Homo sapiens: one gene and its partners. The protein of the gene in region 1 purifies or fractionates together with the protein of each later gene. This does not show direct contact. Each region holds a gene or a part of one and is shown in the gene's direction. Other genes may lie near its edges.

Evidence for each region.
Region 2: the proteins of PFDN1 (region 1) and MLLT10 purify together in Homo sapiens (co-immunoprecipitation; 2 studies listed by BioGRID and IntAct, with this or other methods). This does not show direct contact.
Region 3: the proteins of PFDN1 (region 1) and SKIC3 purify together in Homo sapiens (affinity purification with mass spectrometry, with the first as the bait; one large-scale study listed by BioGRID). This does not show direct contact.
Region 4: the proteins of PFDN1 (region 1) and ARHGEF7 purify together in Homo sapiens (co-immunoprecipitation; 2 studies listed by BioGRID and IntAct, with this or other methods). This does not show direct contact.
Region 5: the proteins of PFDN1 (region 1) and NLRP2 purify together in Homo sapiens (co-immunoprecipitation; 2 studies listed by BioGRID and IntAct, with this or other methods). This does not show direct contact.
Region 6: the proteins of PFDN1 (region 1) and TACC1 purify together in Homo sapiens (co-immunoprecipitation; 2 studies listed by BioGRID and IntAct, with this or other methods). This does not show direct contact.
Region 7: the proteins of PFDN1 (region 1) and ARHGEF6 purify together in Homo sapiens (affinity purification with mass spectrometry; one large-scale study listed by BioGRID and IntAct). This does not show direct contact.

Annotation. Positions count from the first base shown.
Region 1 is NC_000005.10:140,296,602-140,300,101, reverse strand, and holds part of PFDN1 (prefoldin subunit 1), read left to right. Parts: intron 1-3,500. UniProt on the Homo sapiens protein: Binds specifically to cytosolic chaperonin (c-CPN) and transfers target proteins to it. Binds to nascent polypeptide chain and promotes folding in an environment in which there are many competing pathways for nonnative proteins.
Region 2 is NC_000010.11:21,537,232-21,540,731, forward strand, and holds part of MLLT10 (protein AF-10), read left to right. Parts: intron 1-1,601; coding exon 1,602-1,681; intron 1,682-3,500. UniProt on the Homo sapiens protein: Probably involved in transcriptional regulation. In vitro or as fusion protein with KMT2A/MLL1 has transactivation activity. Binds to cruciform DNA.
Region 3 is NC_000005.10:95,516,978-95,520,477, reverse strand, and holds part of SKIC3 (superkiller complex protein 3), read left to right. Parts: intron 1-3,155; coding exon 3,156-3,332; intron 3,333-3,417; coding exon 3,418-3,500. UniProt on the Homo sapiens protein: Component of the SKI complex, a multiprotein complex that assists the RNA-degrading exosome during the mRNA decay and quality-control pathways.
Region 4 is NC_000013.11:111,300,310-111,303,270, forward strand, and holds part of ARHGEF7 (rho guanine nucleotide exchange factor 7), read left to right. Parts: intron 1-438; coding exon 439-538; intron 539-1,168; coding exon 1,169-1,223; intron 1,224-2,681; coding exon 2,682-2,804; 3' UTR 2,805-2,961. UniProt on the Homo sapiens protein: Acts as a RAC1 guanine nucleotide exchange factor (GEF) and can induce membrane ruffling. Functions in cell migration, attachment and cell spreading. Promotes targeting of RAC1 to focal adhesions. May function as a positive regulator of apoptosis.
Region 5 is NC_000019.10:54,979,874-54,983,373, forward strand, and holds part of NLRP2 (NACHT, LRR and PYD domains-containing protein 2), read left to right. Parts: intron 1-1,743; coding exon 1,744-1,809; intron 1,810-2,288; coding exon 2,289-3,500. UniProt on the Homo sapiens protein: Suppresses TNF- and CD40-induced NFKB1 activity at the level of the IKK complex, by inhibiting NFKBIA degradation induced by TNF. When associated with PYCARD, activates CASP1, leading to the secretion of mature pro-inflammatory cytokine IL1B.
Region 6 is NC_000008.11:38,793,736-38,797,235, forward strand, and holds part of TACC1 (transforming acidic coiled-coil-containing protein 1), read left to right. Parts: intron 1-3,500. UniProt on the Homo sapiens protein: Involved in transcription regulation induced by nuclear receptors, including in T3 thyroid hormone and all-trans retinoic acid pathways. Might promote the nuclear localization of the receptors.
Region 7 is NC_000023.11:136,665,933-136,669,432, reverse strand, and holds part of ARHGEF6 (rho guanine nucleotide exchange factor 6), read left to right. Parts: intron 1-1,263; coding exon 1,264-1,404; 3' UTR 1,405-3,500. UniProt on the Homo sapiens protein: Acts as a RAC1 guanine nucleotide exchange factor (GEF).

The DNA of each region.
Region 1 (3,500 bases):
TGCCACTGCACTCCAGCCTGGGCAGCAGAGCTAGACTCTGTCTCAAAACAAAAGAAACTTTGGTTTAAAGTAAGTATCTTTTTCTTTTTGAGACGGAGTTTTCGCTATATCGCCCAGGCTGGAGTGCAATGGCCCGATCTTGGCTCACTGCAATCTCCGTCTCCTGGGTTCAAGCGATTCCCCTGCTTCAGCCTCCTGAGTGACTGGGATTACGGGCGCTTGCCACCACGCCCTGCTAATTTTTGTGTTTTTAGTAGAGACGGGGTTTTACCATATTTGCCAGGATGGTCTGGAACTCCTGACCTCCTGATCCGCCCACCTCAGCCTCCCAAAGTGCTGGATTACAGATATGAGTCACCACACCCGGCAGGTTAAAGTATCTTAGAAATAACTTTAAAGATTATCTAATTAAATGCTTTCTTTTTTTAAAATGAGGAGCTGAACTTCAGGTAGATTAATTAAAGTGTTTAAGTTTAGACTTTAAAGTACATTTTTTTTTTTTTTTTGAGACAGAGTCTCGCTCTGTTGCCAGGCTAGAGTGCAGTGGTGTGATTCTGGCTCACTGCAACCTCCGCCTCTTGGGTTCAAACAATTCTGCCTCAGCCTCCTGAGTAGCTGGGACTACAGGCGCATGCTACCATGCCCGGCTAATTTTTGTATTTTTAGTAGAAATGGGGTTTTACCGTGTTGGCCAGGATGGTCTCAATCTCTCCTCTTGATCCGCCCGCCTTGGCCTCCCACAGTGCTGGGATTACAGGCGTGAGCCACCGCCCCTGGCCTCAAAGTACATTTCTTAAGTGCTTACTTTCCTGTTCTGTCTATGATTAGGTACTTAAGTGTAAGTTCAGTAATAAAAATGATTTGTCATGGAAAATGTTTATAGCAATATTATATTGTATGTGAAGAAGATTTATTTAAGTAGGTGCAGTTTTAACCTCCTCTTCCCTGCTTAATTTATTAGGAGTGATACAAATCATAAATCTTTCAGATGTCTGATCAGTGTTGTAAAATAAAAATAAAAATTCAATTGTCATTTAAATACACTCATTCTGGCCAGGCATAGTGGCTCATGCCTGTAATCTCAGCACTGCAGGAGGCCAAGGTGGGTGGATCCCCTGAGGTTAGGGGTTTGAGACCAGCCTGGCCAACATGGTGAAACCCCATCTCTACTAAAAATACAAAAATTAGCGAGGCATGGTGGCGCACACCTGTAATCCCAGTTACGAGACTGAGGCAGGAGAACTGCTCGAACCCAGGAGGTGGAGGTTGCAGTGAGCCGAGATTGCGCCATTACACTCCAGCCTGGGCAACAAGAGTGAAACTCTGCCTCAAAAAAAAAAAAAGTAAAAAATACACTCATTCTAAGTGTCATGCATTGTTCTAATAGGAGGACAACTCACATGTGAGAAATCTAGTAAATTATTTTACTTTTGTTTGTTCTAATTAATACATTATTAACTTCGTACATTTCACTTTTTTTTCTTTTAAAAGCATATTGCCCTTGTGAGAGAGAATAGGTCTGCTTCATATTCTGTAAGCAGAAAAAAAGGAATGGAAAAGCCCTTAAGTACAGGTCACATTCCATTACAGTGAGCTAAAAGGAGAAGACTGATTTTTTTTTTTTTTAAGTTGGGGGGAGGTACAGGAGGAGGGTTTTTCTGGAATTTGGTCTTTGAGTATTACTTAGTAAGTAGACCATTACTTCAGATTTGGAGATCTTTTAGTTAGAATGGAATTTGACCTCAGTCTCGGGATGACTTGTTTTGTGATTGATTTGAAGAAAGAATAACATGTGTAAAATTTAATAATGACTTTGGAATGACATCATGAGAAGTAGACCTGCTCATCACTGACTAATCCATATCTTTATGGTTCAGAATTAGATTATGTTAAATTGTTCATCTGATTTGCTTTCTCAGAATGAATAATGTAGCACAAGTAAATTTTATGTCCAAGCTCATATATTTCATTTTAGTTTAAGAGGATAAGGATCCCAATTTGAGAGTTTGTTACTGGGACACAAAAGAATTGGAACAAAGTAGAACCCTTGAATATGTGTCTGTGTAGTATGAAATGCATTGTTGGCATTCACTACAGGATAATTTTATCCTTAATGTGAATATCCTTAGGTCTTAAAACAGTAATGCCAGCTTTATTAACATGTTGTACTTGGATTTCACATCACTGCGCTAGCCTTTGTTTGCAATAGCTAAAGAATTCCTTTTTCAAAATAGAAAAAACGTTTTACTCCCTTTGGGCTTTTGAGCTACAGTGAAGTTTTAATTTTTAATTAGAATAGTTTCATTTATTAAACGTTCTGCAGAAGTGTTAGGAGAGTTGTTTTTTGTACATATTTTCCAAAGTGCTACAGATAAGTTGTTTTCCATACCAAGAATTTTGGAGTTTAAAGGCTAGGATATGAATTAATAAATAGTAGAATGGTATTATTTCCAGAAGGTTTATTTCATATAAATTACGTTTCTTAAAAGAAGTGTGGAGTTTTAAATGTTTGGATAAAGTTGAGCTTCTACATGATTTCAGACTTCTGTTTTAAATTTGACTTTAGTGCTGTCTGCATCTCACCGGGAGTATGAGTTTGACCCTGTATTGTAGGGGCATGTAAGGTGAATAGCGTTTGTTGTTTGGCTAGCGTATTAGTGCCCTGAGAGGAAGAAAAGACTTGCTGAGTATTAGTCTGGTCATGAGGATGTTCTCTTTCTTGATGCTAAACCTGAGATATCTATTTCTGAATTTATAGTCGAGTAATTTTGGGTATCATTGTGATTCACTTCTTTAATTCTAGTCTTTACCTTACTTTGTTTTTTCTTTTCCATTTTGAGTGTTATTTGGGAATTCTGACTAGAATATTACTTTTTCCCAAATTTTCATTTTAAAACCGTAATAAAATGGTTATAATAAAATCCAAAACTTCATTTTTCTTTTAGAACATGCAGTAGATTTTCCCATTGCTGAAATTCAGGTCTCATTGCTTCTTGCCTGGACTTTTATGATAGCATCTTAACTGTTCTTTCTTCCTGCCTTCATTCTGTCTGTCCAAATCCATTCTTCACATATCTTTCAGAATTAATCACATCAATATTCTTCCTAAAGTCCTTTGTTCATCCTCTGTTGTCCACAGGATAAAATCTAAACTTGTTGGCCTTGCATTCATGGTTATTCATAATCTGTTCTTAATTTACCCTTTGCCTCAAGTCCCACCACTTTCTTTTTCCAGGGTTAGGATAGCATGTATATTTCATCTCATGGACCTACCTCCTTCTACTAGTTTGTGTTATATGTTGAGAAGAATTTTGAGATGTCAAATGGGTTTTAAACATGCTTTAATTGATTAGTGATGTCTGTTACACAGTGAGGGTAGAAGAGTAGTAGCACATGTACTAGAAATTGTTATCCTACCCTTGCCACATAGGTTTCCTCACACATGTTATGTTTTTGTGCTTTTTTGCTTTTGCTCAGTCTTTGGCGAATAACATTGTCCT
Region 2 (3,500 bases), on another chromosome or scaffold:
TGAATTTATATTCTGCTGTGATTGTACAGTGGGTAGTACTCTGTTTTGTGAATTTATATTCTTTCTTTCTTTATATATTTTTTTGAGGCGGAGACTCCCTCTGTCGCCCAGGCTGGAATGCAGTGGGGCAATCTCGGCTCACTGCAGCCTCTACCTCCCGGGTTCATGTGATTCTCCTGCCTCAGCCTCCTGAGTAGCTGGGACTACAGGCACTACCACCACACCTGGCTAATTTCTTTTTTTCTTTTTTGAGATGGAGTTTTGCTCTTCTTGTCCAGGCTGGAGTGCAGTGGCGTGATCTCGGCTCAGTGAAACCTTCGCCACCCAAGTTCAAGTGATTCTCCTGCCTCAGCCTCCCAAGTAGCTGGGGTTACAGGCACCTGCCACCATGCCCAGCTAATTTTTAAAAAAATTTTTAGTAGAGATGGGGTTTCACCATCTTGGCCAGGCTGGTCTGGAACTCCTGACCTCAGGTGATCCTCCTGCCTCGGCCTGCCAAAGTGCTGGGATTACAGGCATGAGCCACCGCGTCCGACCTGAATTTATATTCTTTAAATGCTTTCCAATATTTAAGATATTTTCATATTTCTGCCTAGCAAGCTCATGCAGAAGTCTACTTGGTTATTAGTGTTTTTAGAGTTTTAGAAAATTTTCAGTTTTGAGCTAATTATTAACTTTAAAAACCAATTTTAAAACAAGACTGTGATTAGATATGTGATGTATAATTAAATCATTTGGAGCATTCACATCATTATGTATTTAGAAATAAACATACCTTTTTTTTTTTGAGATAGGGTCTCCCTCTGTTGCCCAGGCTGGAGCACAGTGGTGTGATTATGGCTCACTGCAGCCTTGACTTCCCAGGCTCAAGTCAGCCTCCTGAGTAGCTGGGACTGTAGGCACATGCCACCGTGCCCAGCTAATTTTTTTTTTTTTTTTTTTTTAAATTTGAGACGGAGTTTCACTCTTATTGCCCAGGCTGGAGTGCAATGGTGCGATCTTACCTCACTGCAACCTCTGCCTCCCAGGTTCAAGCGATTCTCCTGCCGCAGCCTCCTGAGTAGTAGGATTACAGGCATGTGCCACCACGCCTGGCTAATTTTGTATTTTTAGTAGGGACAGGGTTTCTTCATGTTGGTCAGGCTGGTCTTGAACTCCCAACCTCAGGTGATCCGCCTGTCTCAGCCTCCCAAAGTGCTGGGATTATAGGTGTGAGCCACTGCGCCTGGCCTAATTAAAAAAAATTTTTTTTTTTTGTGGAGATGGAGTCTCACTGTATTGCCTAGACTGTTCTGGAACTCCTGGGCTCCAGCAGCCCTCCCAACTCGACCTCCCAAAATGCTGGGATTACAGGCATGAACCATTGCACCCAGCCTTGATTTATTTAGATGAGGTAACACAAAAGAGTTGCATTTAAAATTTTTACTTGTTAATTAAGTAAGCTGTATATGTGATAAATAGGATGTGAACTGTTTTACTTCTCTGTAAAGAGGTAGTTTACTTGAATAGTGACAGGTGGATTAATAGGGCTTTGAAAGGGTATTTGATTTTTCCATAGTTCTTCGAATCTTAACATTTTAACACATTTCATTTTTCAACAGCTTGCTATGGCATTGTTCAAGTACCCACTGGACCGTGGTTTTGCAGGAAATGTGAATCTCAGGAGAGAGCAGCCAGAGTGGTAAGGACTATTTATCAAAAACATTAAACTTTAGTGAGTAGGTTAGGAAATTAGGAACTGCACTCCTGTTGTGGTTTGTGGGGTTGTCAGTCATTTCTTCAAATATCATAATGTAAGAGATAATTTAGGCCAAATATTGACTTGGAGTATTAAACAGATTTTGTAAAACTGAAAAACAAATGGAATCAAGTGAGTATATTTTGGATACTTTGAAAACAAAAATACATAGTCATATTTGGGCTTTGTTAACTAGTTACAGAATCAAGAAAGCTTGAAGAAGTTTGAAGGTTACACTGGCTAATCATAGTTAAAATATAATGGAAATAGAAACATAAGGAAGTTACATTGATAATTCTCTTAGGTTTTGTGTAATGGGAAAAAAACCCAATAATTTTAGTGACTATCATATTCCTTTTACTACATCTTTGGGTGTATAGTTTAACTTCGAACACTCACTGATTTCAGGCATTCAGTCCCTTTGGCAAACCAACATAAAAATCTTTTTTTTTTTTTTTTTTTTAACTTGGGTGGTTACCTTATTTCAGAACTTTTCTAAACCTCTTATAAGAATGAAGGAGGTGCCGGGTGCAGTGGTTCACACCTGTAATCCCAGCACTTTGGGAGGCCGAGGCGGGAGTATCTCGAGGTCAAAAGATGGAGACCACCCTGGCCAACATGGTGAAACCCCGTCTCTACTACAAATACAAAAATTAGCTGGGTGTGGCAAGCACCTGTAGTCCCAGCTACTTAGGAGGCTGAAGCAGGAGAATTACTTGAACCCGGGAGGTAGAGGTTGCAGTGAGCTGAGATGGTGCCATTGCACTCCAGCTTGGGCAATAAGAGTGAAACTCTGTCTCAAAAAAAAGAAAAACAAATTACAAACATTAGCTGGGCGTGGTGGCACGCCCTATAATCCCAGCTATTTGGGAGGCTGAGGCAGGAGAATGGCGTGAACCTGGGAGGCGGAGGTTGCAGTGAGCTGAGATCATGCCATTGCACTCCAACCTGGGTGACAGAGCAAGACTCTCAGGAAAGGAAAAAAAAAAACAAAAAGGAGGTAGGCCGGGTGCAGTGACTCACACCTGTAATCCCACCACTTTGGGAAGCCGAGGCAGGAGGATTGCTTGAGTCCAGGAGTTTGAAACCAGCCTGGTCAACTTAGTCTCTACAAAAGAAAAATTTTAAAAATTAGTTGGGGCTGGGCACAGTGGCTCATGCCTATAATTCCAGCACTTTGGTAGGCTGAGGTGGGCGGATCACTTGGGGTCAGGAGTTTGAGACCAGCCTGGCCGACATGGTGAAACCTATCTCTGCTAAAAATACAAAAAATTAACTGGATGTGGCAGCGCGTGCCTATAGTCTAGCTACTCTGGGGGCTAAGACGGGAGAATCGCTTGAATGAGGGAGCCAGAGGTTGCAGTGAGCCAAGATTGTGCCACTGCACTCCAGCCTGCACTCCAAACAGAGTGAGACTGTTTCAAAAAAAAAAAAAAATTAGTTGGGCGTGGTGGCTTGCACCTGTACTCCCAGCTACTCTGGAAGCTGAGACAGGAGGATTGCTTGAACCTGGGAGGTTGAGGCTGCAGTGAACCATGACTCCAGCCTGGGTGACAGAGTGAGAGACTGTCTCACAAAAAACACAGTGAGGGAGGTATGTTTATCCTTTGTATCCACAAGCATTTTTCCCATTTGGATTTCTGAAAATATCAGAAATAGATTTTATTTTCATTAGTTATGCAAACCTACCATTTAAAATATGATAGTTCCTTTTTAAAATCTTATTATATTTATTGATTTATTATTTATTCCAAGACATCTT
Region 3 (3,500 bases), about 45 Mb from region 1:
AGGAAGGAAGGAGCAGTCTGCTAGTGGAACAGCAGCTCTGACACCATGTGTTAGTGTTCTCTTTCAGTAGGCCTGGAAATGAGTATCTTTAATTGGAACCGATTGGGAAATAGGGCTTCAGGTGCTCAATATGCTGTACATTCAGTGGTAAGAGCCAATTGTAGGATTATTAGTAGGTCTTGAAGGTAAGGGGAAATGACAATCTGATTGCTCCTGAGGAGAAACTGTGAAGGAAAAAAGTGATGTGTCTAATAACAAGAAAGGAATCAGAAAATTTTGAGTAGATTTGGCATTTTATAGAACTGTGAATTCATTGGTTAGGTCAGAAAAAGTGTTATCTGTGGTAGAAGACTTCCAAAAGTCCACAAGTTAGATGTACATTTGAATTTTTTGTAACTCTTAAACATCTTTCTTCTACTTCCCCTCTTTTCCTGCTTGGTTTCTCCTCTGTTTTGTATTTATTGGTTGTTCCAGAATTGCTTTTCATATGAACCAAATATGAAATGAAAACCTAACCCTTTTTTATCTCACTGAATTTTATTGCTACTTTTCAAGTCTCACATAATGTAGTTCTTTCTAAAGGGAAAGTTACTGTGTAAAGGGCATGCTTTATTTGAACTGCTATTTAAGAGTAAATGTGAACCTTTGGGTGACAGTACCTTAGCTATAAATACTGCCTCTCTGAGCCTAGGAAATGTTATTCTGGATAACATGTAACATAACCCATTAGAAGGTGGCATATAAAACAATTATAATCTCCAAATGTATATTTACTTCCAGACTTACAAGGCGTTAATACTATCACAATTATTGTGTAAGGGTGATATAAGTTACTTCAATTTATAGATATTTTATTTTTATTGAACTCAAAATAAGAATTTAGGCTCTTAAAATCGCCTGTTTCACTTTTTTCCTCTCTTCTCATTTTTTGCTGTCAATTTTAGAAATTTTGCTAAGATATTTAGGCAAAGGAACTCCAAATCATATTGCCCTTCTTTCAGATTCTCAGTGGGCTTTTAGTTATGACCACAATAATTAATATTATTTCTTAGGAAGACATTGGAAAATTATTTTTGGCTGGACTCCATGAGTAGAAAAGGCTATGAAAAATGTTCCATCTGCTTTTCCATCTGCCAGTAACATAGCAGCTTGTGATAGCTGATTATTGAGACTTGGCTTAAATGAAATTGCCATGTGTTATTTATAAGATCTCGAGAAGAGAAAAATGAAGAAAAATGTATAGCTGAAGTTTTTCTCATTCTAAAAGGAATTGCCCTCTGTCACCATAATTAATATTTCTCTTTGCTTTTTGAGCTTGTTCATTCAGTCTGCTCTTGTTTCGGTAAATGTAGTTCTTCAGATTTTTATGTTTAGATTTTTGTTTTTTTTTTTTGGTCTCAGGGTATTAATGTTCAACATCACCAATCATCAGGAAAATGCAAATCAAAACCACAGTAAGGTATCATGTCACCCCAGTTAGGATGTCTGTTATTCAAAAGACAAAAAATAAAGGCTGGCAAGGATGTGGAGAAGAGAGAACTCTTATATGGTTTATGGGAATGCAAACTAGTGTAGCCACTGTGGAGAACAGTATGGAGTTTTCTCAAAAAACTGCAAATAGAACTACCGTATGATCCAGCAACCCCACCACTGGGAACTTATCCAAAGGAAAGAAAATCATTATATCAAAGAGACATCTGTACCCTCATGTTTATTGCAGCACTATTCACAATAGTCGAGATATGGAATCAACCTAGATATTCAACAACAGATGAATGGATAAAGAAAATGTGGTATTTATATGCAATGGAATACTATTCAGCCATAAAAAAGAATGAAATGCTATCATTTAAGGCAATTTGGATAGAACTGGAGGACATTATGTTAAGTGAAATAAGCCAGGAACAGAAAGTTAACCACCATATGTGCTTACTCATATGTGGAAGCTAAAAAAAAAATTGATCTCATAGAAGTAAAAAGTAGAACAGAGGATACTAGAAGCTGGGAAGGGTAGGGGGAAAGGATATATGGGTAATACTTGTTAAAGGACACAAAATTACGCTAGATAGGAGGAATAAGTTCTAGTGTTCTGTAGCATTGTAGGATGACTGTAGTTAACAATAATATATAGTTTCAAATAGCTAGAAGGAGGATAGTGAACATTCCTAACACAAAGAAATTATAAATGTTTGAGATGATTAATATGCTAATTACCCTGATCTGATCACAATACATTATATGTATCAAAACATCTCTGTACCTCATCAATATATATAGTTATGCCAATTAAAAAATAAAATTTACAAAAATCTTTCAGATCTTACCAAATATATTTGGTATATTTTATTTGAGGTGTCTTCATCAATTTTTTGCTGCCATAACAGAATACCATGGACTGGTTAATTTACAAAGAACAGAAGTTTATTTGACTTGGTTCTGGAGGCTGATAAGTCCAGGAGCATGGTGCTGGCATCTTGGTGAGGGTCATCCTATGGCAGAAGGGCAGAATGCAAGAGAAAAAAAATGGGACTGAACCTACCCTTTTATCAGGAGCTGACTCCTGTGACAACTAACCCATTCCTACAATAACAGTATTAATCCATTTAGGGAGGCAGAGCCCTCATGACATCATCACCTCTTAAAGGTCCTACTTCTCAACATTGTTGTCCTGGAGATTGAGTTCCCAACTCATGAGCTTTGTGGGGATGTAGTCAAAACTACACAGCATGAGAGAAGATCTAAAAGCAAAAACCTGAGTTTACAACTGTCAGTTGTAAGAGAGTTACAAACTTTACTGCCTTGGTCATTGCTTAAACACAAAAAGCATAGTTTTAACATTTTAATATTAAAAGGAAATTGGTCCTGGAAAACTTATTTATTTATTTGCGTGATTGCTGCTACTTCTAATAAAAATGGTGAAGAGTAACAAAAAAAAGTGTCCACAAAATTTCTGGCACTTAAAGTAATCCCTTCCTCCTTCCCTTTCTCCTTTTCTTCTTCCCTTCCTATTAGGGAGGTGATATGATATGATTCAGTTAGGAGGAGACTAGTAAAGTACTTAATGTACAGTTTTTCTGTTTTAAGTAATAATCAGGGAGATAAACTTCATGCTTTTTATAAATAATTTGTAAGAATCACAATGTTTCTTTTTTTAGTGCTCTACAGCATCGAGCTGATGTGTCCTGCCTCTGGAAGCTAGCTGGGGATGCTTGTACCTGTCTGTATGCTGTCGCACCATCTAAAGTGAATGTTCATGTTTTAGGAGTCCTTCTAGGTCAGAAAGAAGGAAAACAAGTATTAAAGAAAAATGAGCTCCTCCACCTTGGAGGAAGGTAATTTGCAAAGATTGCCAGTTAATAACATTTGAATTGAATTAAGGCATTGTAACAAAAAACATTCACTTTTATATTCCCGTAGGTGTTATGGTCGTGCATTAAAACTGATGTCTACATCTAATACATGGTGTGACCTTGGAATTAATTATTATCGCCAAGCACAAC
Region 4 (2,961 bases), on another chromosome or scaffold:
GTAGAGTAAAATGTTTTTATTGCCAGATCTTTGATGTATAAACACTCACTGTATATGTTCTGATTGGTCTCATATGTCTTTGCTGAAACTCTTGGAATAATGGCTCAAAATGGGATGAATATCCAGAGCAGTACAGTCACAACCTTTAACTTCCTCCCTGTTGAAAATGCTGGGGTTTCAACAATCCGTAATTCCGATTTGAAAAGGGCTACAGTTTCCTTCCCTCTCTGGCTTTGGTCATGAGGAGGCCTGGGCTCGGTAGACAGAGGTGAAGAGAACTGGTAAAAGATGCCCTCCTCTAGCTTGCCTGGATGAACGTTTTTAAATGCATAATTGCTAGAACTTAATATTTAAGTGACATGGTATAGTCAAGTTGTTTTTCTTCATTCTGCCATGGTATTCGCCTGAGGTTTATTTATTATTTTTTCATGATCCTAGGTTCACGCAAAGAATCTGCTCCACAAGTTTTGCTTCCAGAAGAAGAGAAAATTATAGTGGAAGAAACTAAAAGTAATGGTCAGACAGTGATAGAAGAAAAGTAAGATGTCTTCCGGTATTCTAAAGCAGATGTTTGACCTCTGCGGTGGGGTAGTAGAGTCCAGACAACTCCCTGAGGGCGGGGGTATGGCTTCAGAAGCTTCACTTTTTTTTTTTTTGAGACGGAGTGTCACTCTTGTCACCCAGGCTGGAGTGCAATGGTGCGATCTCAGCTCACTGCAACCTCCACCTTCCGGGTTCAAGCGGTTCTCCTGCCTCAGCCTCCCGAGTAGCTGGGATTACAGGCCTGTGCCACCACGCCTGGCTAATTTTTGTATTTTTAGTAGAAACGAGTTTTCACCCTGTTGGCCAGGCTGGTCTCAAACTCCTGACCTCAGGTGATCTGCCCGCCTCGGCCTCCCAAAATGCTGGGATTACAGGTGTGAGCCACTGTGCCTGGCCAGAGCTTCACTTTTAAAATGTCTTCATAGGCTGAAGTTGCCCTTGACTAGGCTTGAACCTGCCATGCACAGAGGTTGGCAGTTTTTAGTTGTGAATGTAGACAGTACATGGGTAAGGCAGAGCAGCTCCGTGTCCTCCTCTCAGCATCGTAGTGTCTCCTGGTAAGTTTTCGTGTGTCCTCTCCATGCCTCACCTTGTTCATGTGTGTGTGTTCTGTTTCCTGTTTCAGGAGTCTTGTGGATACCGTATATGCATTAAAGGATGAAGTTCAAGAATTAAGACAGGTACGTCATAATCCATCTTTAAATCTTTTTTTTCTTTTCAAATGGGAGAAAAGAAGAAAATTACATTAAAAATAAGCTGGCTGGGTACGGTGGCTCACACCTATAATCCCAGCACTTTAGAAGGCCGAGGTGGACAGATCACCTGAGGTCAGGAGTTCAAGACCAACCTCACCAACATGGCAAAAACCCATCTCTACTGAAAATACGAAAATTAGCTGGGCATAGCGGCAGGTGCCTGTAACCCAGCTACTTGGGAGGCTGAGGCAGGAGAATTGCTTGAACCTAGGAGGCGGAGGTTGCTGTGAGCCGAGATTGTGCCACTGCACTCCAGTCTGAGCCACAGAGCAAGACTCCGTCTCAAATAAAAATAAAAAGCTGATTGTCCATAAGCAAAAAACTAAAAGGAGGTCATGTCTTTGAGAAGTCCAGCAGATAAAATAATTGGTTGTCTCTAAAGTGACTTGTTTAAACTCTTTTTTTTTTCTTAACAATACTGATTTTGATGTCATAAAACATCGCAAATTCTGTTGGAAGAATAATTTAAAATATCGAAAGTTCTGTCTGGTGACAAATCCTGCGAGGCGCCCCTGAGATTAGCCTCTGCCACTGCATGGTCCTTGGCTCCCGAAGCCAGGTTAGCGAGCCAGAAGTGGCGACTAACCAAGGGTGTTCTGGGTATTGCACGGAATGTGAGTATGAGCAGCTTTGGTCCTCTGCCCAGCTAGGCGAGGGAAGGTTGGGGTGTTCATTGCACGGAATGTGAGTACGAGCGGCTTTGGTCCTCTGCCCAGCTAGGTGAGGGAAGGTTGGGGTGTTCTTTTGGCCGAGGAACAGCCTGAGAAGAGTTGTGGTCTGGGATAGAGAGCTGAGAGCAGGTTGCTGTGTGGAACTGGACATGTGCTGTCATTCTAAGCAGTGTCCGCAGGTCTTCCAGGTACACCTTTGCCTGGCTGGCAGGCTTCCATGTTCACGCTTTGCCCCTACCGGCAGCAGGCATCTGTTTGTGCATGCCTCCTACGTCCGAGACATGCCTGGGTTCAGCTGCACAGAGCAGGTGCTCGCCCACTTGCTCCTGCACCTGTCAGTGGCTGTTACTTCCAGTCCTTTCTGTAACTCTGGAAGGTGGTTATAAATGGACAAAAAGGCTGGATAGGAGCTGTCTCGTCCGCAGTTTCCAGCTATTTTCTTACGGTATGTTCTATAGAGATTCATTCATGGACTTAATAAGAGCCATTAGGACCATTTCCATCCCGGGAACAGCAGCACAGTCAGGAGCACCGCTGCCACCCTGTCCAGGTGTTTGACCTTCGTGGATCCCCACGACCTCAGAGCCCATAGGCAGCTCACGTGGGATTTCATGAATCGAGGCCTTAGCTCCTCAAGGATACACATTTGGGGAAAGGAAGCCCTACGCGATGCCAAAGATAGTGAACACCCTGTGGTCTGCTTAATTTACAGGACAACAAAAAGATGAAGAAATCTCTAGAGGAAGAACAGAGAGCCCGCAAAGACCTGGAGAAGCTGGTGAGGAAAGTCCTGAAGAACATGAATGATCCTGCCTGGGATGAGACCAATCTATAAGGGATGTCCTCAGTTCTTTCTGTTGAAGACCAGTTCTGAGGTGAAGCTGGGCACCCCTGACCCAAGTCGGGGTGCACTCAGGACCACAGGGCAGGGCTGGGTGGGGCGCCACCTTGCTCTCTGTATATAGAAAAGCTGGAGCTTATTCTGCGAATGG
Region 5 (3,500 bases), on another chromosome or scaffold:
TCAAGCGATTCTCCTGCCTCAGCCTCCCAAATAGCTGGGAGTACAGGTGTGTGCCACCACGCCCAGCTAATTTTTTGTATTTTAGTAGAGACAGGGTTTCACCGTGTTAGTCAGGATGGTCTGGATCTCCTAACCTCGTGATCCGTCCGCCTCAGCCTCCCAAAGTGCTGGGATGACAGGCGTGAGCCACTGTGCCCAGCCTAGCACACAATCTTGACAAAGAATTTCGGTGCGACTTGGGGTACTGTGGTGCCTGCTCTATCATCATGCTTCAGCAGGAAATGTGGGTGAATAGTGCCTGGTGGCATGGCAGGTAAAGAAATGTTTTGTTTTGTTTTTTTTTTTGAGACAGTCTTGCTCTGTCACCCAAGCTGGAGTGCAGTGGCGCAATCTCGGCTCACTGCAAGCTCCATCTCCCGGGTTCACGCCATTCTGCCTCAGCCTCCCCAGTAGCTGGGACTACAGGCGCCCGCCACACGCCCGGCTAATTTTTTGTATTTGTAGTAGAGACAGGGTTTCACCGTGTTAGCCAGGATGGTCTCGATCTCCTGACCTTATGATCCACCCGCCTTGGCCTCCCAAAGTGCTGGGATTACAGGCGTGAGCCACCGCGCCCAGCCGCGGGTAAAGAAATTTATGAAGACAATCGTAGGTAAAGGAAGGCAGATTTATTGGAGAAAGTAGGAAAAGACATTGGCAGAGAGACCCCAGCGGGCAGGTTGTCATGAGTAGCTCACTGCCAGGAGACCAAAGCTTCCTGCAGATTTTATAGAATAGGGCTTGGGCTGATTGATAATGTCAACAGGGGGTTTAACTTGCGGTCTTCTTTCAGCAGAAGTGTTTGATAAACTGAGGCGTTTCATGGCAAACAGGGAGTTTGTGAGCTCTGTGTGTGATCTGGCCAGGAAGGCCAAACATCTTGGGCCGTATCTCCTGGACCATAAAAGCAGACCTGGCCCAGTGCAGTGGTTCATGCCTGCAATCCCAGCACTTTGGGAGGCTGAGGTGGGTGGATCATCTGAGGTCAGCAGTTTTAGACTGGCCTGGCCAACATGGCGAAACCCCATCTCTACTAAAAATACAAAAATTAGCCTAGACGCAGTGGCACATGCCTGTAATTCCAGTTACTTGGGAAGCTGAGGCAGGAGAATCGCTTGAACCCGGGAGGCGGAGGTTGCAGTGAGCTGAGATTGCGCCACTGCACTCCAGCCTGGGCAACAGAGTGAGACTGTCTCAAACAGACCTATAGCTGACCTGTTTCCTCTTGTTTGTATGCCCTGAACCATGGAGGAAAGCTTATTTATTTATTTTATTGAGATGGAGTCTTGCTCTGTTGCCCAGGGTGGAGTGCAGTAGTGCGATCTCTTACTACAACCTCCATCTCCCAGGTTCAAGCAATTCTCGAGCCTCTTGGCCTCCCAAGTAGCTGAGATTACAGGCATGCGCCACCACGCCTGGCTAATTTTTGCATTTTTAGTAGAGATGGGGTTTCTGTGTTGGCCAGGCTGGTCTCGAACTCCTGAGCTCAAGTGATCCACCCCACCTCAGCCTCCCAAAGTTCTGGGATTATAGGCATGAGCCACCACACCTGGCCGGAAAACACATTTGTAGCTTATTTGCTTTATCTGATCCCGTGCCCCCCCTCCCCCCCGCCCCATCAGCCTGCCTCCTTTTCTCTAATTGGGACTCCACAGGAAATACACCTGATTTTGTGTCAATCTCACATGAGTTTGTATTTTGTAGCGTTTACAGAAACGAAAGGAAATGTCATCTGCCTGGGTAAAGAAGTCTTTAAAGGAAAAAAGCCAGGTCTGTACCATATCTTCCTGCAGGGAGCTTGGGATCAGATTTCTCTTTATAAACTTGAAGTCCTCTTAACTTTCCTATGTAACACAAAGCATTTATTTATGTATGTATGTATCGAGACGGAGTTTTGCTCTTGTTGCCCAGGCTGGAGTGCCGTGGCGTGATCTCGACTCACTGCAACCTCCGCCTCCCAGGTTCAAGCAATTCTCCTGCCTCAGCCTCCCGAGTAGCTGGGATTACAGGCATGCGCCACCATGACTGGCTAATTTTTTATTTTTAGTAGAGACAAGGTTTCTTCATGTTGGTCAGGCTGGTGTTGAACTCCCAATGTCAGGTGATCTGCCTGCCTCGACCTCCCAAAGGGCTGGGATTACAGGCATGAGCCACTGTGCCCGGCCAACACAAGGCATTTTGTTATTTTGGTTTTCCCTATGGGTAACTGATTGCATCCTCTCTCCCTTCCCTCCTCACCAATGATAAAGACAAAGACAATAGGTGCAGGTATATATTGAAGACGAAGTTCCGGGAGATGTGGAAGAGCTGGCCTGGAGATAGCAAAGAGGTCCAGGTTATGGCTGAGAGATACAAGATGCTGATCCCATTCAGCAACCCCAGGGTGCTTCCCGGGCCCTTCTCATACACGGTGGTGCTGTATGGTCCTGCAGGCCTTGGGAAAACCACGCTGGCCCAGAAACTAATGCTAGACTGGGCAGAGGACAACCTCATCCACAAATTCAAATATGCGTTCTACCTCAGCTGCAGGGAGCTCAGCCGCCTGGGCCCGTGCAGTTTTGCAGAGCTGGTCTTCAGGGACTGGCCTGAATTGCAGGATGACATTCCACACATCCTAGCCCAAGCACGGAAAATCTTGTTCGTGATTGACGGCTTTGATGAGCTGGGAGCCGCACCTGGGGCGCTGATCGAGGACATCTGCGGGGACTGGGAGAAGAAGAAGCCGGTGCCCGTCCTCCTGGGGAGTTTGCTGAACAGGGTGATGTTACCCAAGGCCGCCCTGCTGGTCACCACGCGGCCCAGGGCCCTGAGGGACCTCCGGATCCTGGCGGAGGAGCCGATCTACATAAGGGTGGAGGGCTTCCTGGAGGAGGACAGGAGGGCCTATTTCCTGAGACACTTTGGAGACGAGGACCAAGCCATGCGTGCCTTTGAGCTAATGAGGAGCAACGCGGCCCTGTTCCAGCTGGGCTCGGCCCCCGCGGTGTGCTGGATCGTGTGCACGACTCTGAAGCTGCAGATGGAGAAGGGGGAGGACCCGGTCCCCACCTGCCTCACCCGCACGGGGCTGTTCCTGCGTTTCCTCTGCAGCCGGTTCCCGCAGGGCGCACAGCTGCGGGGCGCGCTGCGGACGCTGAGCCTCCTGGCCGCGCAGGGCCTGTGGGCGCAGACGTCCGTGCTTCACCGAGAGGATCTGGAAAGGCTCGGGGTGCAGGAGTCCGACCTCCGTCTGTTCCTGGACGGAGACATCCTCCGCCAGGACAGAGTCTCCAAAGGCTGCTACTCCTTCATCCACCTCAGCTTCCAGCAGTTTCTCACTGCCCTGTTCTACACCCTGGAGAAGGAGGAGGAAGAGGATAGGGACGGCCACACCTGGGACATTGGGGACGTACAGAAGCTGCTTTCCGGAGTAGAAAGACTCAGGAACCCCGACCTGATCCAAGCAGGCTACTACTCCTTTG
Region 6 (3,500 bases), on another chromosome or scaffold:
CACTGTCATCCCCATAAATAAAGTTATTGGAATACAGCCATACTCATTCATTCATGTATTGTCTATGGCTGCTTTTGCTCTACAATAGCTGGGTTGAGTACTTGGAACAGAGACCAAATGTCTGGCAAAAGTCTAACATATTTACTATCTTGTACAGAAAAAAAATGTCAACCTACATCTATACTTATTACAATTTCAGTAAAAATACAGAGTTTAAGTAATTTGGGAAAATGGCTTTAAGAATGAAAAGGTGCAAGGTTATACCTGCTGAACAAATGAACTGTGGGCGTGAGGTGCCATTAGTCTAGGCCTGCATGTTCAGGGAAGGCCCAGGGGAGAGCCTGATGTGGCCTGGCTATTTGTCATATTTGCAAAGGGGAAGTGATGTAATTGGTCTGCAATGAACTTGATTTTCAATTGACTCAAAGATCTAAGGAGGAATAAAAATTATTTAAAAAGGAAATTAGGGAAGAATGGGGAGAATATTGGAATCATTTAATAGAAGTACAAACACATAGACTTTTAACTTTTGCCCATTAAATTTTTTTTAACATTTTATTTTCTTAAATTTTTTTTAAAAAAATAGTGATGGGGTTTCACTGTGTTGCCCAGGCTGGTCTCGAACTCCTGGGCTCAAGTGATCCTCCCACCTTGGCCTCCCAAAGTGTTGGGGTTACAGGCATGAGCCAGCCTCACCCAACCCATTAAATGTCTTTAATGTAACTTCGGGTGTATGAGAATTTGTAAGTTGACTGTGCAGATCTCTTAAAAGGTTGATATGGTGTATTTTTAGAATGTTTTAGACTGCACGTGTGTGTGTGTTTGTTTGTGTGTGTGTGTGTGTGCGTGCTATAGAAAACACAGCATGGAAACCTTGTTAAAATCAGAGGCTTTGATTTTTTATTCTAAAGCTTTGAGTTATATGTTTAATCAGATACTATGTGAAAAATTTTCATTAGGTACATATTGAAGTGTTCCATTCAAGTCTACAAGTATATCCTCCTAAGGATTTAGTTTAACATCCTTTCCCTGCTCCAACAAGGGAATGCTTTATTAGAGTTTCCTAGAAATAATGGGACTAATTAGGACCTTTCATATTACCTAGTCCAGCAGTCCAACCCATGTGGCTCCTTCAACAGCATCGCAGCCTAATGCTTTTAATTTAATTTTAAATTTTTAATGTTTTGCTGTGATTGCCTCTTCCACAGTTTGATTTTTTTGTACTGTATAATTCCATGTTAAGGTATTTAAAGCTTGAAAATCTTAGCATGATATAGCTACTTTGTTTTTTCATGTATTTTTAGCTCTGAAGTTGGAGATTCCAACCAGCTAATAAATGAGATCAGAGTCATGTGTTTTTTTGTTGTTGTTGCTCTATCACAATGTAAATGTGCCCCTAGGAAGCACCTGCTTCTATATGGTGCCTTACCCAAGGGAGTGTCTTCCTGGGGAAAAAAGTGTAGTTTTTCCAGCAGAAACTTGTGAGAGTGCAGAACCACAGAGGAGCAACAGTGTCTGAATAAAAAATTCCAGGGCAGGGAAGCAAAGTCTACCTGCAGAAAGGAAAGATTTTAGTAACTATCAAATCACAATTTTTCTTTTAAGATGAGTGACAAAATCAAGACCTTGCACTCCCCCATTTTGGGCTTACCCAAGCATCGAATAAAGCAGTAGAACTTACTTTGGTACTTGCGGGTGGCAGAGACACTTTCTACCTGTGTATGTGTTTTGGGAGCCGGCAGTCCTTCTAAAATTATATTGCTGCCATGTAATGTCCCACCTACAAAATGGATGTGGCCTAAAGCCATTTAAACATTTAAATGAAAGAGCAGTTGCAGTGTCTTTTTCAGGTTACCAGTTATACTGCCCAGAGGAAATCTTGGAGGGTATAAACCATTTTGTCACACTCTCCTAAATCCAGAGTAGCGATGGGAGATAATGGTTTATCCACCCAAAACAACCCTCTCAGTGGAGATTTCATAACCAAGGTTGCTAAATTGCCTGGTGACTATTAAATCTGGGCTTAGAAAGGCTTTGCTACTTGTGAGTTCAAGATCTCACCCTCACCTTTGCATGTACATGACCTAATTTTATGAGTTCAAACAAACATGATTAGATCCCCAGGGTTTAGATTGATGATGGCCAGACTCACAAGGGAATAATAATAATGGCATGGAGTATTTTATTAATTCACAAATGAAAAATGTATCTTGACAGTTTGGCAGATGCAGATACTCTCCTAGCCAGTCGAGGACCCTCTTTCTTATATCATAGCTGGAAATATGACAATAAATGATTGATCTCCAGCTTTCCCATTACAATATTCCCACCTAGCAGATCACCAGCTATCTGTTTCAGCCGTATTTATTTATTAGATGTGTTGGGAACAAGTAATCTTTGTTTGCAGCATCTTGTTTGATTTTTATGACCATGATTCTGCGAGATAGGACACAAGTGATTTCCATTTCACAGATTGGGAAATTGAGGCCAGAGCCTTTACTGCTAGTAGTGGACCTGGGTTTTGAATTCAGCTTTTAAGATTGCAGATCCAGAGCTCTTTGGAACATATTATACAGCTTTTCTCTCCAGGAAATTTGTGAATCCCTCTCTGTTGTTCACTATCTGAAGAGAAGACATATCAGAGGAAATAAAGGGTCTTAAAATGTTGCCAGAGCAGGGTGTGTGATGGGGGAAAGCATCGTCTTAAGTATCCTGTCATGTGATAGTAGTTTAAAAAATCAAAAAATACATCTTCCACATGTGTGAACTTGGCACATATTATTCTGAAGTATGAAATGTATTTTAGGAAGTTGAAACATCAGAAGTTTGGAAGCTTGCAGCATGATTTAGATATAAATTAATAGTCAAGCAAAAATCATCACTGGATAAGTGCAGTGGGATTGAAAACATTTTGCTTCCTCAATGCCTAGCTTCAGCTCATCAGTGAAAAATAAAGAAGGAGTAGACAAATTCAGTACTAGCCTTTGCATTCTGTCTCCACCTGAGTCATGCATGGTTGAGAAGAGGCAGGTGTGTGGAGGTGTGTGCGGCTGCCAGGGGCTCTGCGCCTGTTTTATGGTAGATAGAGGAGTTTTTAAGAGGCCTTTGTTGGTGATCTCTGGCTGCATAACAAATTACTCCAAAACTGAAAACAACGAACATCTCACATAGTCTTTGTAGTTGGGAAATTTGGGAGCTGGGTGGTGTGGCTCAGGTCACTTTTGAGAATGCTGTCAAGATGTCGGCTGGGACTGCAGTTGTTTAAAGACTTGACTGAGGCTCAAGAATCCTCTCCTAAGGCGGCTTACTCATTTGCCTGGGCTGTGAGTGCTGGCTGTTGGTGGGAGGCTGCAGTCCTCACCATGTGGACCACTGCTGGGTTGCTTGAGTATCCTCACAGCATGGCAGCTGGCTGCCCCAGAGTGAGTGATCCAAGAGCAAGCAAGATAGAAACTGCAGAGTCTTCTGTGACTTAGCCTCAAAAGTCACACTTATTTCCA
Region 7 (3,500 bases), on another chromosome or scaffold:
TCTTGCCTCACGCTGCTCATGCTTTCAGGGAAGGCCTAGGAGCAAGGTAGCGAGGGGGGATTTTTGTTTTCCTTGTGTCATCAAGGTAGGTTTTGTTGATTTTATCATGTAAGCCTTGAATTTAAATTTCCGAGGCTTGCTTGTATTTCTATGTAGTAGTTCACAATAGAGTCCCAAAGTTAGTTACAACTTTCCTGTTCTCTGACATCCATAAACAGACTTTAAGAAAAGACTAGTCATTCATGAGTGTGTAAGTGTAAAGAGAACCATTCATCATGGTTTGTGGGCTTTTCTGCCGATGTGGCCTAGTGCTCCGTGATGCACACTGTGCCTTGTGTGTGAGGACTGACTGTATCTGGTGACAGAGTGAAGGATGGATGCGAGGGGAGAGAGACCAGGGACTAGAAGACCACTTAGGAGGTTCTTACAAAACTCAGGGTGAAACCTGTCAGAGTCCTGAACTGAGGCAGGGTAATGAGGCTGGGGAGGAGGAAACGAATGTAAAGGATGGCATACTGCAGAGTTTGAACCTATGGACGAGGATAATATGATTTTGAGATTAAGAAAGAGCCAGGGATTAAAGATGAAGCTTCTTCCCAGGGTGTCTGGTTGCATATGGTGGTGCCCCTTCATGGAGATCAGTAATCACAGGAGGAGGAGAAGTTTGGGGTGTTGAGAGAGATACTGAGTTCACTTTAGGACCTGATGAGTTTAAGGTGCTTGTGACATATCTAGGTGGAAATACCAAGCTGCTGCCAGGTAATCTCAGGTAAGTGAGAGGATCACTTAAGCCCGGGAGTTTGAGGCTGCAGTGAGCCATGATTACACTGCACTCCAGCCTGGCAATAGAGTGAGACCCCATCTCTTAAATAAAATAATAATAATAATAATAATAATAAGAAGAAGAAGAAGAAGAAGAAATACCAGGCTGACAGTTGAGATTGTGGACCCGATTCTCAGGAGACAAGGTCAGTACCAGAGATATTTGGGAGTCCCCTTAATAGACACTTGGGTTGAAACAGAAGTGACACTAAGTGAAAAGCAAGTTAAATTAGAAGAGGATCAGGGCAGGGAAGAAGAATCCAAAAGGTTTCCCAGAGACAGGCAGGAGAATCGACAGGCTGCTTTGTCATAGATGCTGAGGGAGGGAAGGTCGAGGAAAGAAAGAGAGTCAGTGATGAAAGCTGCCCCGAGGATGAGCAGGAGGAGCCCTTGGAAGGGCCCCCCTCTGTTTGATAATCAACAAATCTTTCCCCATCATAGGAAAATAAAAGAATGAAGCAATGCCTGGAAGAAGAACTGAAATCAAGAAGGGACCTAGAAAAGCTGGTGCGGAGGCTTTTGAAGCAAACAGATGAGTGTATTCGAGGCGAGTCCAGTAGCAAGACCTCAATTCTTCCATAACCATCACTGTGCCACTGGGTGGAGTGTGCCTTCAGGGCATCTTGAAATGTCCCGCTGAATGATTTGACTCAGTTTGCTCACTTCTTTGGCTTTTGTTTTGTGTTTGAGTCTCTCTCTCTCTCTCCCTCTCTCTTCTCTTTCTCTCCCCGCTGTGTGCATATGTGTGTGCGTGCACGTGCGCGCTTGGGCATTTGCTGTTGTTTGGTTATTGGTTGGTTGTTCATTTTTTTTTTCAACAGGTGAAAAAGCAGGAAGTGGTGGTAGAGATGGCCTCAGAGTCTTTTCCATTCAGTAAGAAAGAGAAAGGGAATGCAGGCCAGTTACTTAAAAGGTCTTCAGATTGCCTTCAGTTCACAGTGCCTCTGCAACAGCCATTGCCCTCAGGTCACATTCTTTGGGCTGGCTGCCCTTGCAAAGCAGCTGGCCAAGGCTTATTAAATGTGAACCCAACTTTTCCCCAGGGCTTTCCTGTACCTGCAAGCCTCTTAGTACTTAATTTACCGAAGGCAAATCTTCCAGACTATGGCTTGAGTAGGATGAAAGACAAACACATCTGCCCAATGATCCAGCTGCCCTTCCTTAGACCATCACATGCCTCCCCTCAATCACAGGTTTTAAAATTACTGCCCTATGTTGTCTATAAGACCAAGAAAACTGTAGTACCCTTATTCCTTTTGTGTCATGTAAATTGTAACTCAGGGGGGCAGAAGCTCTGGTCACCCACACCAACACCAAATCCATCAGCAAATTCTACTGGACAATCCTCCCTTTTAGTAGCAGAGTTGACCGCCTTTTCCCATTGCATGATAGGTTTCTTTCCCTCATTCTGCCTAGTGTGTAAGTTTTCTATTTCCCCAGTACTTTTAGCCAACCTTACCAAGTGGTGTGTAAACTAGTATGTATGTGCTTTGCTTACTTTTTAAAAAAATGTAGTTAGACTGTGAGGAGTTACTTTATGTACGTTGCATATTCAAACTGTGATGTTTTATCCTTCAAAACAATCTGCATTAAGAAGATATTGTGCCCTACTAGACAGCTTTCATTCACTTTATTACTCTCTCATATATGCTGTGAGAAGTTGTAATATTAATTGGCCTCTTTGGGTGGGACTCTAAGCAGTATTTGCAGAAATATGCTTCTGGTCCAACTTGTACATCCAGAACAAAAGGGCCCCTCTAGTAGCTGTGTGCTGGATTATTCAGGACTGATTAACTCAAGTTGCTCATTGAATCACATCATCCACTTTATCCCAGAAACTAGAACTGTGAGAAACCAGGTTTAGAAGACAGTCACAGAACAGCACACATCCAAATTCAGCGCCATTGAAAGTTGGCCTAAGGCTCAGTGCCACTCACCCCTCCCTCCCCAAAAGACAAGAGAAATTTGGCCAGATGGGGAAGGTCACTGGAAATTGAGGCCAAAGGGCTGATCAGAATTGCCTTTATAATATATTTGATGGATGCCTATAAATGTGGGTTTTGCAAATATTGTTTAAAAACCAAACTTGAAGCCAGGCATGGTGGCCCACACCTGTGGTCCCAGCTACTCAGGAGGCTGAGGTGGGAGGATCATTTGAGCCCAGGAGGTCAAGGCTGCAGTGAGCTGTGATGACACCACTGCACTCCAACCTAGGTAACAGAGAGACACCTCTGTCTCTGAAAAAACAAAACTTGAAGTTTGAAACCCCCAGCTTGCTGAGGAGCCCTTTTTATTTTTGGTACTGAGAGTCTCAAGGTCCCATAGCTACATGGTACAGGGCTGTTGTCTGCTTGCTGCACAGCAGAAATTACACCATCCACAGGAAATGGACTATTTTTGCAGTCCAACATCAGCCAACCACACACAGCCGTGTTTGGAAGCTGAAGAGTAAAGAAATTTCTAGGAATGGCTGTTGTTCTGTTTTTTAGCACAGCCATTTAGATATAACATCCTTCACTTAAAAATTAAAAACATCAGTACTACCACCACCACCAACAACATCAACACAGATCTTCACATCTGCCCATTCTGTGGTTAGTCAATGGCTTGCAATAAATGTGCAAACTGCATCTATAGGAAACATTTTTGTGATTACGGAATACTTTAGTTGATTGCTG